2 linked regions of the Homo sapiens genome follow. The protein of the gene in region 1 interacts with the protein of each later gene in a biochemical or structural test. Each region holds a gene or a part of one and is shown on either strand. Other genes may lie near its edges.

What was found. The genes of interacting proteins can lie anywhere in the genome.
Region 2: the proteins of OLR1 (region 1) and CCT4 form a complex in vitro, tested with the Homo sapiens proteins (one study listed by IntAct).

What each region holds. Positions count from the first base shown.
Region 1 is NC_000012.12:10,162,128-10,169,166, reverse strand, and holds part of OLR1 (oxidized low-density lipoprotein receptor 1), read left to right. Parts: coding exon 1-93; intron 94-2,209; coding exon 2,210-2,455; intron 2,456-7,039. UniProt on the Homo sapiens protein: Receptor that mediates the recognition, internalization and degradation of oxidatively modified low density lipoprotein (oxLDL) by vascular endothelial cells.
Region 2 is NC_000002.12:61,871,618-61,878,656, reverse strand, and holds part of CCT4 (T-complex protein 1 subunit delta), read left to right. Parts: intron 1-1,142; coding exon 1,143-1,264; intron 1,265-1,604; coding exon 1,605-1,737; intron 1,738-2,422; coding exon 2,423-2,562; intron 2,563-5,363; coding exon 5,364-5,460; intron 5,461-5,544; coding exon 5,545-5,655; intron 5,656-6,068; coding exon 6,069-6,199; intron 6,200-6,340; coding exon 6,341-6,575; intron 6,576-7,039. UniProt on the Homo sapiens protein: Component of the chaperonin-containing T-complex (TRiC), a molecular chaperone complex that assists the folding of actin, tubulin and other proteins upon ATP hydrolysis.

The sequences.
Region 1 (7,039 bases):
TTCTTTACTCTCCATGGTGGTGCCTGGCTGCTGCGACTCTAGGGGTCCTTTGCCTGGGATTAGTAGTGACCATTATGGTGCTGGGCATGCAATGTAAGTGCTAAAATACGGAACTGATGTTTATTGGGGCAGGGGTGTTGGAAATGAGGTTAATAAATATGGTTTATAAGTTTCTTTCATAACAACTACAAACAGCCTTGATATAGATTCATTTTAGGCAAAATGTTTTTAAGAGTGACCATGAAAATAAAGGGGTATATTGTTCATCTTCCAATGGATAGAGCCATGAAATAAAAATTACAATTGGTAGGCATTTTTTTGTTTGTTTGTTTTGTTTTGTTTTGTTTCTTTTGTTTTCATAACTTCATGGATAGGCCGGGTGCGGTGGCTCACACCTGTAATCCCAGCACTTTGGGAGGCCAAGGTGGGTGGACCACCTGAGGTCAGGAGTTCAAGACCAGCCTGGCCAACATGGTGAAACCCCATCTCTACTAAAAATACAAAAAGTAGCCGGGTGTGGTGGCACATGCTTGTAATCCCAGCTACTCAGGAGGCTGAGGTAGGAGAATAGCTTGAACCGGGGAGGTGGAATTTGCAGTGAGCTGAGACTGCACCATTGCACTCCAGCCTGGGCAACAGAGCGAGACTCCATTTCAAACAAAACAAACAAACAAAAAACCAACCTCATGGATAGAGCCTATTTAAATTCTAGAATGATGGAGAAGATAATAACTTAAAGTTACTAATATCCAAGATCATCTGAGAGGCCCAAAAGTAAAAGAAATTTTATTTAGCTTGCTGAGTTTTGATAGAGATAATTAAATACCATTTTAATGTTAAGAACCAGAAACACAATCTTAATAAATAAAACATTTAAAATAAAATATATTTCACATTTATAATAAGAGCATTTAGAAAAGAGAAGATATTGAGGGAAAAAAAGAAGTGAAAAGATGGCCCAGAGTGGCCAAGAAGGAAAGAAAATGGTGCCCAACGTTCACCTGAACTGCCTGTGAATTTAGGTTGTAGAACTGAGTTGTTTAGGCTACCCAGGATCCAGGTTATTATGGCCATTGAAGTGCTATTTGCTTCCTAACTGTTGTTCAAGCTCACAAACTATTTTATTTTAAATTTGTAAATACTTAGGGCCTTTCCTAGTGACAAGGAGAAGTGCCCTTGACTTAGTGGTGGTGACCAGAAAAATCTTTTGAGCCTTTGATCATCTTATAACAGGATCAAAGCTGCCTTCAAACCAAGCGGTCTGCTTTGTATTGCACCATCAAAATTCAGGAACTGAGACATTTGACCCTTAACATGTTATCGCCTGCTTGATTTCACAACCTTCACTTTATCTTCACCCTTCCTAAAATGTACCGTGGCCAAGGGGAAAAAAAAAAGAAAAGAAAAAATTCTTGGAGACTCTTGTGACACAGTGTGCGTGGCTGTCTCAAAAAAGGGGTGTATGTCACAGTTCTTAAAATTAGGAAGTCTGGAAGAGTAGACAGAATGGGAGGAGACACAGCAGAGGAATTGAGACATAAATAGAGTAAATCGCTAATGACATTTCCTACTAATAGTCACTGAGTCTGGTGGGTGTCTGTTTCAGGTTTTCCTTATTTTATTTATTCTAATGCTGTACTGGTTATCTTGTGATTACTTTTCATTTGTAACTCAATAAAAAAAAATCTTGGGTTTTTTTTGTTGTTGTTGTTGTTTTTTATTTTTTTTGAGACAGTCCCCCTCTGTCGCCAGGCTGGAGTGCAGTGGCACTGTGATTCCCCTGCCTCAGCCTCCTGAGTAGTTGGGACTACAGGCGCGTGCCACCACCCTCAGCTAATTTCTTTGGTATTTTTAGTAGAGATGGGGTTTCACCATGTTGGCCAGGATGGTCTCTATCTCTTGACCTCGTGATCTGCCTGCCTCGGCCTCCCAAAGTGCTGGGATTACAGACCTGAGCCACCGTGCCTGGCCAAAATCTTGGTAATTTTTAAAAAAATTACAAGTGTTTGCAATGTTCCTGACATTAAACAAAATACTGCAGGAATATTCAAGAACCTCCAAATCTGTAACTTCTGAGTAAATCTGGGTCATTTTTCAGCAGCTTATCTATTGTCAAAATAGATTTAATTCTGTTTTGATTTCCTCAAAAAGTCCCTGGAGGGATTTTTATTTGGATTAGAACTAGAGTCTTAATGCAACTGTGATTCAGTATCCCAGGTGTCTGACCTCCTAACACAAGAGCAAGCAAACCTAACTCACCAGAAAAAGAAACTGGAGGGACAGATCTCAGCCCGGCAACAAGCAGAAGAAGCTTCACAGGAGTCAGAAAACGAACTCAAGGAAATGATAGAAACCCTTGCTCGGAAGCTGAATGAGAAATCCAAAGAGCAAATGGAACTTCACCACCAGAATCTGAATCTCCAAGAAACACTGAAGAGAGTAGCAAATTGTTCAGGTATTGGGAGAAGGGTGGGTAAGGAGACATAGTGGAAGCTTTCTGTCCAATCATAACTATTTTTTGGAAACAATTCTGGGCTCAAAATTGGTCTATTGTTATGCATATCATTATTCATTCATAATGTTCTATACAAGAAGTTCTCAATTTCTTTTTCTTTTTCTTTCTTTTTCTTTTTTTTTTTTAGATGGAGTTTCGCTCTTTTGCCCAGGCTGGAGTGAAGTGGTGTGATCTCTGCTCACTGCAACCTCCACCCCCTGGGTTCAAGTGATTCTCTTGCCTCAGCCTCCCAAGTCGTTGGGACTACAGGCTCCCATCACCACGCCCAGCTAATTTTTGTATTTTCAGTAGAGACAGGGTTTCACCATGTTGGCTAGGCTGGTCGCGAACTCCTGACCTCAGGTGATCCACCCATCTTGGCCTCCCAAAGTGCTAGGATTACAGGCATGAGCCACCGCTCTCGGTCAATTTTTTATTTATTTTATTATTATTTTTTAATTTTAGACGGAGTCTTGCTCTGTCACCCAGGCTGGAAAGCAGTGGTGTGATCTCAGTTCAATAAGCTTCTGCTTCTTGGGTTCAAGCAGTTCTCCTGCCTCAGCCTCCCAAAGTGCTTGGGATTACAAACATGAGCCACCATGCCCAACTAATTTTTGTACTTTTAGTAGAGACAGGGTTTTGCCATATTGAACAGGCTGGTCTCAAACTCCTCACCTCAAGTCATCCGCCTGCCTCAGCCTCCCAAAGTGCTGGGATTACAGGTGTGAGCCACCGCACCCGGCAAGAAGTTCTAAATTTTTAATCAGAACCACCCTATGCTGTGTCAAATCCTTGAAAAATCTGATTTAATTAAGCATACCTTTTGGTGGATTTAAGTTTTCCTTCTTTATAAGAGCCTCTTCTTTTTAAAATTTTAGTTTTGAGATTTTTCTTTCTTTTTTTTTATTTTTTGAGACAGTCTCGCTGTGTCACACCCAGGCTGGAATGCAGTGGTGTGATCTCAGCTCACTGCAACCTCCACCTCCTGGGTTCAAGTGATTCTCTTGCCTCAGCCTCCCTAGTAGCAGTTTTGACATTTTTCTTGAAGAATTCTGCCACCCCCACCCCATTCCATAGATCCTTATCTCTTTCCATTCCAATGCATTTTAATCACTGTATTTCTTTTTCTAAGGGATCTTTTTGTCCTTGCAACTGTCTACCCCTAACTCTACATTAGCTCACTCTGTGGCATTATTTCTTAAAGTGTACTACATCAACTTATTTTATTTGATTTCAATTTTTGGAGATGGAGTCTCGCTCTGTCGCCCAGGCTGGAATGCAGTGGCCTGATCTCGGCTCACTGCCACCTCCGCCTCCAGGGTTCAAGCAATTCTCATGTCTCAGACTCCCAAGTAGCTGGGATTACAGGCACCCACCACCACGCCCGGCCAATTTTCTTTTTTTTTTTTTGAGAGGGAGTCTCGCTCTGTCCCCCAGGCTGGAGGGCAGTGGCACATTCTCGGCTCACTGCAACTTCCGCCTCCCGGGTTCGAGGGATTCTCCTGCCTCAGCCTCCCGAATAGTTGGGATTAGAGGCACCCGCCACCACACCTGGCTAATTTTTGTATTTTTAGTAGAGATGGTGTTTCACCAAGTTGGCCAGGCTGGTTTTGAACTCCTGACCTCGGGTGATCCGCCCGCCTCGGCCTCCCAAAGTGCTGGGATTACAGGTGTGAGCCACTGTGCCGGGCCCATCAATTTAAATAGAGCCAATGGAGGTAGACTGGCTTGCAAGCCTTACGCAGATACTTCAGATTAGACAAAAATATGAGGAGTCCAAGAAGTCTATTTATATAAGAAGAAATGAGTTAATTTTAGCCGTCTAAAGGGACTCAGAATCCAGAGGCAGGCAGAAATAGTAGCATCTATAAGAAGACTATGATGTGAACTCTGATATTGTTACAGAAGCTACTGTATTATTTGGTCTTTCTGCAGTATGTCATTACATCAGGTATATGGTTTTAGGCATAGGGAGAGTTAAAAGGTGTGAGAGAGAGTCATTCAGAGGTACTTTGTTTCCTTGGAGGTGCGTAAATTAGTGCCCTATTGTCAGGATTAGAGAAAAACTTCCTCTAATAAACAGAGATCTCTCTAGCTTCTTGCTTGCACAATTTACTTAATCTCAACCACATAATTTATTTGAATAAAGAGCATATAATAATAGTTCACAGATACCTAAGCTTTTCCTTGATAGGTGGAACACTGAGACCCGGATAAAGTGAAATGATAATAAAAAGTAATTTTGTGTAAGGTTTTGCAGTTTGTAAATCCCTTCACTATTTAGAGGTCATTTACATTTTCAAAATTAGCAGAAATTTTTGAACAAAATAATTTTTAGCAAGTGTCAAACATTTTTAATCTCTTTAAAGTTGGAGCTTGCAAGGAAATGAATATACCACCTTCAAGAAGGCTTAAAGGGAGAAAGTTTATCTATTAAGGATAGGAATGTTTATAAAAGCGGACATAACCACGTACTAACCAATGGTTTATATCACAGGCAAGGCCAGAAGAGAATTTTGTCTTTATCAGTTGTATGGGATTAAATCTACATCAGGACCATTCAGAACTATCTCCCAGAGATGCCCTGGATGAACAACTAATAAAAAACAATAAGTGATATGTCTGATGCTGGCAGATATACCAAGTAACATGTTCCATTCCTTGACAGTGTCAGATAAAGGCTAATTAGTAGAGATAGCAAATAAAGTTTTGCCTTTCATCAAAGAGCATTTTTTTTTTTTTGAGACGGAGTCTCGCTCTGTCACCCAGGCTAGAGTGCAGTGGTGCGATCTAGGCTCACTGCAACCTCCGCCTCCCGGAGTCAAGCAATTCTCCTGCCTCAGCCTCCTGAGTAGCTGGGATTACAGGCGCCTGCCACCACGCCCAGCTAATTTTTGTATTTTTAGTAGAGACGGGGTTTCACCATGTTGGTCAGGCTGGTCTCGAACCCCTGATCTCGTGATCCACCCACCTTGGCCTCCTAAAGTGCTAGGATTACAGGTGTGAGCCACCAGGCCCGGCCCACCAAAGAGCTTTGAGAAGTCTTTAAAAAGTAATACTAAAATACCACATACAGAAAAAAAAAAAAAGCCAAGTTTTTCCAGTTTGAGGCAAGTTTTATCTTTTTTACTAAAAAGTCTGTGGTCTTCAATGTATATATGAGGAGGGAGAGATGCTGAGAGGTTATTATATGTTTGCTTTAGGCCAACGAGCTAGTGAGATGCAGGGCCTTTGCAGGAATAGACTTCACATTTAGCAATGGAATTTGTGGTGATTCTCAAACTTTACTGTATGTAAATAGATTGTTAAAAGTGGCAGATTACAGATTTACCTCAAGATTCTGTATCAAAATGTCTCGAGAGCAGCACCGAGAAACACTTCCTCAAATGGTTTTAACTTAGAAGTTTGAAAGGTAGTATGTTATAGTGGTGAAACACCCAGACTCTAGAGTTACATTATCTAGGTCCAGATTCTTCTCTATTTGTCAAATGAAGAAAATGACTGGAACCTATCTCACAGAGATACTGTGAGGATTAAATGAGTTAATACCTGTACAGTACTTCCAACAGTTTCTGGCACATAGTGAGTGATATTTGTGTTTGTTAAATTATATAAAAAATAAACATAGTAAGTGATATTTGTATTGTTATATAATTTAACAAACACAAATATCACTTACTCTGTTTATTTTTGTGTACACACACACACACACACACAAAGAAATACAGTAAGTTTAAATACTACATTTTGTAATGTGTCCTTCTTACTTTGTCATAACTGGGAAAACTTGCCCAGACTGTCTTTTTAGTCCACAAAAAACTTATATACATCTAAATATATTTTTTGAGACAGAGTCTTCCTCTGTCATCCAGGTTAGAGTGCAGTGGCATGATCTCAGCTCACTGCAACCTCCACCTCCTAGGTTCAAGTGATCCTTCCACCTCAGTCTCCTAAGTAGCTGAGACTACAGGCGCACACCACCACACCCAGTGAATTTTTGTGTTTTTTGTAGAAATGGGGTTTCGCCATGTTGCACAGGCTGGTCTGGAACTCCTGGCCTCAAGCGATCCACCCACCTCAGCCTCCCAAAGTGGTGGGATTATAGGCATGAGCCACCACCCCCAGCCAAAAACGTACATATATTTATATTTACATAATATGATGGGGTTAGGCAAACTAAGAAGTAAGAAGCTTGCATTGACTGCTTTCAACTTGGTCTCTTTTTCTTTTCATAAGCATCAGTTTGGTGAAAAATCAACTTAGTGTTTTGTATGCTCTTTCTCATTCACTTTTTTCTGTTTTTCAGTCCCTCCTATTTTCTCCTCTCTGATAAAGCCTACTCTTATACATTTATTTAGTGGTTTTATGCCACAGTGAGAATGAAATTAAAATGCTGCCTTTCTCAAAGATTTTAATTTTTCACCTTTTGGTTGTAGTGTAGACCAGAGTACTTTGTTTCCCCTTAAGGAGATGGGAGAGATGATGATGATGATGGTGATGATAGTGATGATTTGAGGGTTCCTGAAAGCATCCATAAACATGTAG
Region 2 (7,039 bases), on another chromosome or scaffold:
CACTTTTCTGTTTAATGCATTGTAACAGTGTTTTGATAAAGCTAGATATTTTAATTTGCCTATAAGAAACCTTTTCCTCCACCAAATCAGAAAGACTGCCATAGATTACTGGCAGTATAGCTAATTTTTATTGAATATTTAATATGGTGGGCATTGTGATAAGTTTTTTACATTTATTGTCCTCTTCAAGGCCCTCAGATAGTCATATCCCCATTTTATAGATGAAAAGAGTAGATCTAGAGGAGTAACTTATCCAAGGACCGCTAACAGAAACAGCTGAGATTTGAACCCAGGACAGGCTGCCCATCGTGGTCCATCCCTTAACTAATACTTATGCTGCTTTTCTTATTTACCAAACTTAAAGCGGTGTTGTGCTTTTAAATTTCTTTGGAACTCATGTCACTTGTTTTCTGTAATATCCTGTGTTTATCCCTTCCTTCCCCTAATCCTTTTTCCTTTTAAAAATCAGTATTAAGTCCATACATTCATTTTGTTTGAATGTTAGGTAGTGTTAGGGACACTAAGTGATACTGTTGGATGTCCTTAGAACTAATACAGATAGTATAGCGTAATGGTTACAAGCACTAGGCATTGAGTCTAGACTGCTTGTGTTTGTTCAGTACTGACTTCACCACTTAACTACGCTGTTTGGCCAAATGACTTAACCTCTTGGCTTCAGTTTCTCCATCTGAAGATTGAATGAGTTAATATGTAAAGTTCTAAGACCACTGCCTGGCATATGTTAAGTGATTGATAAATGTTAGCAATTTTTATCAACCCCTCATCAGGAATGTACATACATAACATTGATGCCTCATCACACATTCATTTTAGATAGAAAATACTCACGTAAAATTAAATTTATGCTTTTTGGATTTCCTGTAAAACTTTGATATTCTACAGTCCCGGCTATTATATTAATAAAAGAAAAAAGCAAGCATACATGTTTTTATTTTGTGCCCCTGGTGACAACCTGAATGGAAAAGACACTTTATGGACTGTCTTCTCATGAGTGTTTCCCTCTTCATACCCACACCCCACTGCAAAAATTATAAGAGTCTTTCTTAAGTATCTTTGTCATTGAAAAATTAGGACTTTTTTCTACTGTGAAGGTAACTTTTTTTTTTTTTTAATAATTCTAGGTGGTTTCTCAGTATTCAAGTCTGCTTTCTCCAATGAGTGTAAATGCAGTGATGAAAGTGATTGACCCAGCCACAGCCACCAGTGTAGATCTTAGAGATATTAAAATAGTTAAGAAGCTTGGGTAAGCATCTCTAATTACAACTTGAATAAAAATTTGAAAATGAGCATCAGATTGCCAAAAATAAATAAAAACACCTAGATGAAAGTCACAAAGCTCTCTTTTCTCTTTTTGGTTTTGTTTTCGTGAGAATTTGTATTAGTATGGGCATCTGGAGATTTTGTTTATGTTACCTTATGATAGTAAGGCAGCAGTGGATCAAAGAGATCCAGGAGTGGGGCAATAATAAATGTGAGGCTGAATCATATTTTATTGGACTGATGACTTTTAATCTGTTCATCTATTAAACGTACAGATGTCCACTCCCTCTTAACTACCCCTCTTTGTTTTCTTTTATCCTTAGTGGGACAATTGATGACTGTGAGTTGGTGGAAGGGCTGGTTCTCACCCAAAAAGTGTCAAATTCTGGCATAACCAGAGTTGAAAAGGCCAAGATTGGGCTTATTCAGTTTTGCTTATCTGCTCCCAAAACAGACGTAAGTAGAATCCAAATGAAATTGGTTCTCTGTGTTTAACTTTTTAATAACTCAGGCATTTCTTTATTAAAAATAGAAAATACTACTAGTGATTTAAAGCAGATCTCAAAAGACTTACTAGAATTGAGACAAAAATAGTAATTGTTGGTGCCACAAGTGACAAGTCTGTATCCTCAGTTGGGATATTGAAATTGAGAGCTAGCCATTTGCAACGATGCCTGTAGTCCCAGCTCCTTGGGAAATTGAAGCAGAAAAATTGCTTGAACCTAGGAGTTTGAGGTTGCAGGGTGCTATTCCATGACCTGTGAATAGTCCCTGCACTCCACTCCAGCCTGGGCAACATAGTGGGACCCCATCTTTTCACTGTTGCTGTTAATTTACAAATTCACACAGATTAGAGAGGGACCCTATCTTTTGAAAACAACTAGGGTAACCATTTTATATTTTTTGGTTATAAAAAATTTACTTGCAAAATGTAAGATACCAGTGTACTTAGTTGAAAATAAAAGACTCAAGTTTGGGATGTGTATCTTAATCCAGACTCTTTTCTATGCATGTCTATATAATTTATTACTTGATATAGTTTTGGTTGAATTTATACAACACATAGTATTTTCGCTTAAAATTCTACTTTTAAACTTAAAATATCTTACAATGCAAATTATGATGTTCTTTTTCTGAACAGATGGATAATCAAATAGTGGTTTCTGACTATGCCCAGATGGACCGAGTGCTGCGAGAAGAGAGAGCCTATATTTTAAATTTAGTGAAGCAAATTAAAAAAACAGGATGTAATGTCCTTCTCATACAGAAATCTATTCTAAGGTGTGGGGCTATTTATTTTGTTCATCCCTTAATGATAATTTTGGATCTCCACTAGCAGTTTATTTTTTCTGATAAAATATATGATTTAAGCACTTACTCTAAGTTCGTATTTCTTAACAGACAACTCTTAGGTGAAACGAAATGGAGAATTTTTATTTTAAAAGCACAGGTAAAATGTTAGGCCTCAATATTGTACCATCATTTGCTCAGACCAAGGGAAAAAATGGTATAAGTTCAGTTAAGATGTCTAGGAAAAGCATTTTAAACAAATATATGACTTGTAAATTCAAAACAATAAAGGTGTAATTTTCTTTTACAAAAAAAAGTAGGTTTTTTAAAATAGCCAACTAACTGCCAGAATGTTGTGTTTTGGCCTTTTAAAAAACTTATTTCTTCGATTATTGGCTTCAGGGTGGAGCCCTTAAGGAACAGGGCCAAGAAAGCATGCAGTTTTTAGAGTCTAAACCACACTTCTAATAGCAATTTTTTTTAATTTTTTTTTTTTTTTTTTTGAGACAGAGTCTCACTCTGTCATCCAGGCTGGAGTGCAGTGGTGCAATCTCGGCTCACTGCAACCTCCGCCTCCTGGGTTCAACAAGTGATTCTACTGCCTCAGCCTCCCGAGTAGCTGGGACTGCAGGCACGTGCCACCACACCTGGCTAATTTTTTGTATTTTTTGAGTAGAGATGGGGTTTTACCATGTTAGCCAGGATGGTCTCGATCTCCTGACCTCATGATCCACCCGCCTCAGCCTCCCAAAGTGCTGGGATTACAGGCATGAGCCACCGCACCCAGCCTCTAAGAGCAATTTTTATAGAAACATTTGAGTTGGGTAAACCACCAGAAATCTGCATTTTTTTTTTTAGCAGTATCATTATTTTTCCTTGCAGTTACAAGCTGGAAAAGCATTATTATGTTTTGATAAAAAGTGCGTAATCTTCCTTTTTTTTTTGAAATGGAGTTTCGCTCTTGTTGCCCAGGCTGGAATCAATGGTGCGATCTCGGTTCACCACAACCCCCGCCTCCTGGGTTCACGCAAGTCTCCTGCCTCAGCCTCCCGAGTAGTTGGGATTACAGGCATGTGCCACCACACCCAGCTAATTTTGTGTTTTTAGTAGAGACGGGGTTTCTCTGTTAGTCAGGCTGGTCCTGAACTCCCAACCTCAGGTGATCCGCCAGCCTTGGCCTCCCAAAGTGCTGGGGTTACAGGCATGAGCCACCACGCCCGGCCCTATCTTCCCTTTTAAATGTAGGATATATAATCTTACCTAGACCAAGGTCCTAAACATCAAGCCTTGTTCTTTTAAAAGCCATGTTGCAGAATTAATTACCTAGTTAAAAGTGGAATTTATTTAAAGGTCTATGCAATTGCTTGCCTTGTCATTTAGAGGTACTTTTTGGGGGAATGCTCTGCATAGTCCATAGATGAAAAGAATTCTCTGAAGTTTGACAGATCACTTTTTTCCTTCTTTTTTTTTTTTTGGAGACACAGTCTCACTCTGTCACCCACGCTAGAGTACAATGGCGCAGTCTCAGCTCACTGCAACCTCTGCCTCCCAGGTTCAAGCAGTTTTCCTTCCTCAGCCTCCTGAAATAGTTGGGATTACAGTCACGTGCCACCACGCCTGGCTAATTTTTGTAGAAATGAGGTTTTATCATGTTGGTCAGGCTGGTCTTGCACTCCTGACCTCGTGGTCTGCCCCCCCTTGGCCTCCCAAAGTGCTGGGATTACAGATGTGAGCCACCGTGCCTGGCCAGTATTTTTTCCTAATAGACGCATTCCCATTTACTCCATTAATGTGCCAGAATGTACTGTGGATGTTCATTTTATATAGTCTTTGAAGACTCAGAAGACTTGGTTCTAATCCCAATCATATAATAGCTACTGACCTTGAGTAAATTGCCCCCCAAACTCAGTTTGCTTATCCGTATAATAGGGATAGTAGTAATATCTACCTTTCTAGTATCACAGAGTTGTTATTCACAGTTCATGGGGAAGTGTAAATTTGTGGAGTCTGAATTAATACTTCTAAATTCATGAAGTATTAATAAGGTTTCACTTCCCAAGATGTGCTCATTTGTTAAGAAAAATGAGGTCAGGCACAGTGGCTCATGCCTGTAATCCCAGCACTTTGTGGGGCCGAGGTGGGAGGATCACTTGAGCCCTGAGTTCAAGACCGGCCTGGGCAACATAGGGAGACCCTGTCTCTATTAAAAATAAATAAATGAGCCGGGTGCAGTGGCTCATGCCTGTAATCCCAGCACTTTAGGAAGCCAAGGCGGGTGGATCACCTGAAGTCAGGAGTTCGAGACCAGCGTGGCCAACATGGTGAAACCCCGTCTCTACTAAAAATACAAAAATTAGCCAGGTGTGGTGGCGGGAGCGTGTAGTCTCAGCCACTTGGGAGGCTGAGGCAGGAGAATCGCTTGAACCCAGGAGGTTGAGGTTGCAGTGAGCCAAGATCGTGCCATTGCACTCCAAGCCTGGGCAACAAGAGCGAAATTCCATCTCAAAAAAATAAAAATAAATAAATAAATGGGGAAAAAATAATGACCTAGTTATTTCGTGTGTTTTATAGTGTCATTGGGGACAGAGTACATTTTAATACTGGAATTGTACTAAAATTTCCAATAGAATTGGAAATCTTAATTTTGACCTTACGAACTTAGTAAACTAAAGCATTTTTCTTCAGAAATAATGATTGGCCATTTAAGAAACAGTAATTAAAACCTTAAAGGCATTTGAAGAGCAAAATTTTTTTAATCTAGCATTGACATAATCACTGATTTTGTATTTTAGAGATGCTCTTAGTGATCTTGCATTACACTTTCTGAATAAAATGAAGATCATGGTGATTAAGGATATTGAAAGAGAAGACATTGAATTCATTTGTAAGGTAAAACATTAACATCTGTATTTGTGGAAAATGTCTGATAATTAGATAAATGTCTTAATTTGTGGATTTGACTGTTTTTTCCAGACAATTGGAACCAAGCCAGTTGCTCATATTGACCAATTTACTGCTGACATGCTGGGTTCTGCTGAGTTAGCTGAGGAGGTCAATTTAAATGGTTCTGGCAAACTGCTCAAGGTAACAGTATTACACTTAAATTTTTATTTGCTTAGGTTTGGGTATGGGGTTTTAGGTTGTTTTTTTTCTTTTTTTGAGACGGAGTCTCACTCTGTCGCCCAGGTTGGAGTGCAGTGGCATGATCTTGGCTCACTACAAGCTCCGCCTCCCGGGTTCATGCCATTCTCCTGCCTCAGCCTCCCGGGAAGCTGGGACTACAGGCGCCTGCCACCACGCCCTGCTAATTTTTTGTATTTTTAGTAGAGACGGGGTTTCACTGTGTTAGTCAGGATGGTCTCGATCTCCTCACCTCGTTAGCCACCCGCCTCATCCTCCCAAAGTGTTGGGTTTACAGGCGTGAGCCGCCGTGCCCGGCCTGGGTGTGGGGTTTTTTTGACCCTTCAAATACTTAATTTGGAATTTGTTTACTGAAGATTACAGGCTGTGCCAGCCCTGGAAAAACAGTTACAATTGTTGTTCGTGGTTCTAACAAACTGGTGATTGAAGAAGCTGAGCGCTCCATTCATGATGCCCTATGTGTTATTCGTTGTTTAGTGAAGAAGAGGTAATGTCAGTGTTACATTATTAAGTAACATTTTGAACATTAAAACTATTATATTCTATTTTTTAAAGATATAAATAGCAAATTATTAAAAATAATTTTCTTTTGGATAAAATAAGCTAAAAATATATTTGTGAATTTCAGGGCTCTTATTGCAGGAGGTGGTGCTCCAGAAATAGAGTTGGCCCTACGATTAACTGAATATTCACGAACACTGAGTGGTATGGAATCCTACTGCGTTCGTGCTTTTGCAGATGCTATGGAGGTCATTCCATCTACACTAGCTGAAAATGCCGGCCTGAATCCCATTTCTACAGTAACAGAACTAAGAAACCGGCATGCCCAGGGAGAAAAAACTGCAGGCATTAATGTCCGAAAGGTAATCATTTAATCTCTAATGTAGAAAATATTGATTAATTTAAAATATTAAAAGCTTTGTAGTCATCTGTTGAATGGAAAGCTCTGTAATGAAAAGCATAATCTTGGATTTAAATATGAGGCCTGCTGCATGTTAATTAATCTATGCCATTGAGTGAGAAGGAAGATGGTGACACCTTAGGGGGAAGTATTATTTGTTCATTAAATCTGCCACTTACTGACTAGCTTTTAGCAAGTTACTTAGTCTGTTCCTCAGTTTCCTCAGGTGTAAAAACAGGGATGATTAATAGTTCCCTCATAGGCCTGTTGTGAGAATTAAATGCATTTCTAGTTAACAAGCTCTTAGATAGATGCTTGGCATATACTAAAGACTGTATAAAAAATCATTGCCCTAGTTAGCATGAGCTAATGTAGTTGTGTAAGGTAATCATATGGTAATAATATCACTTTTTATTAATGTTTTGT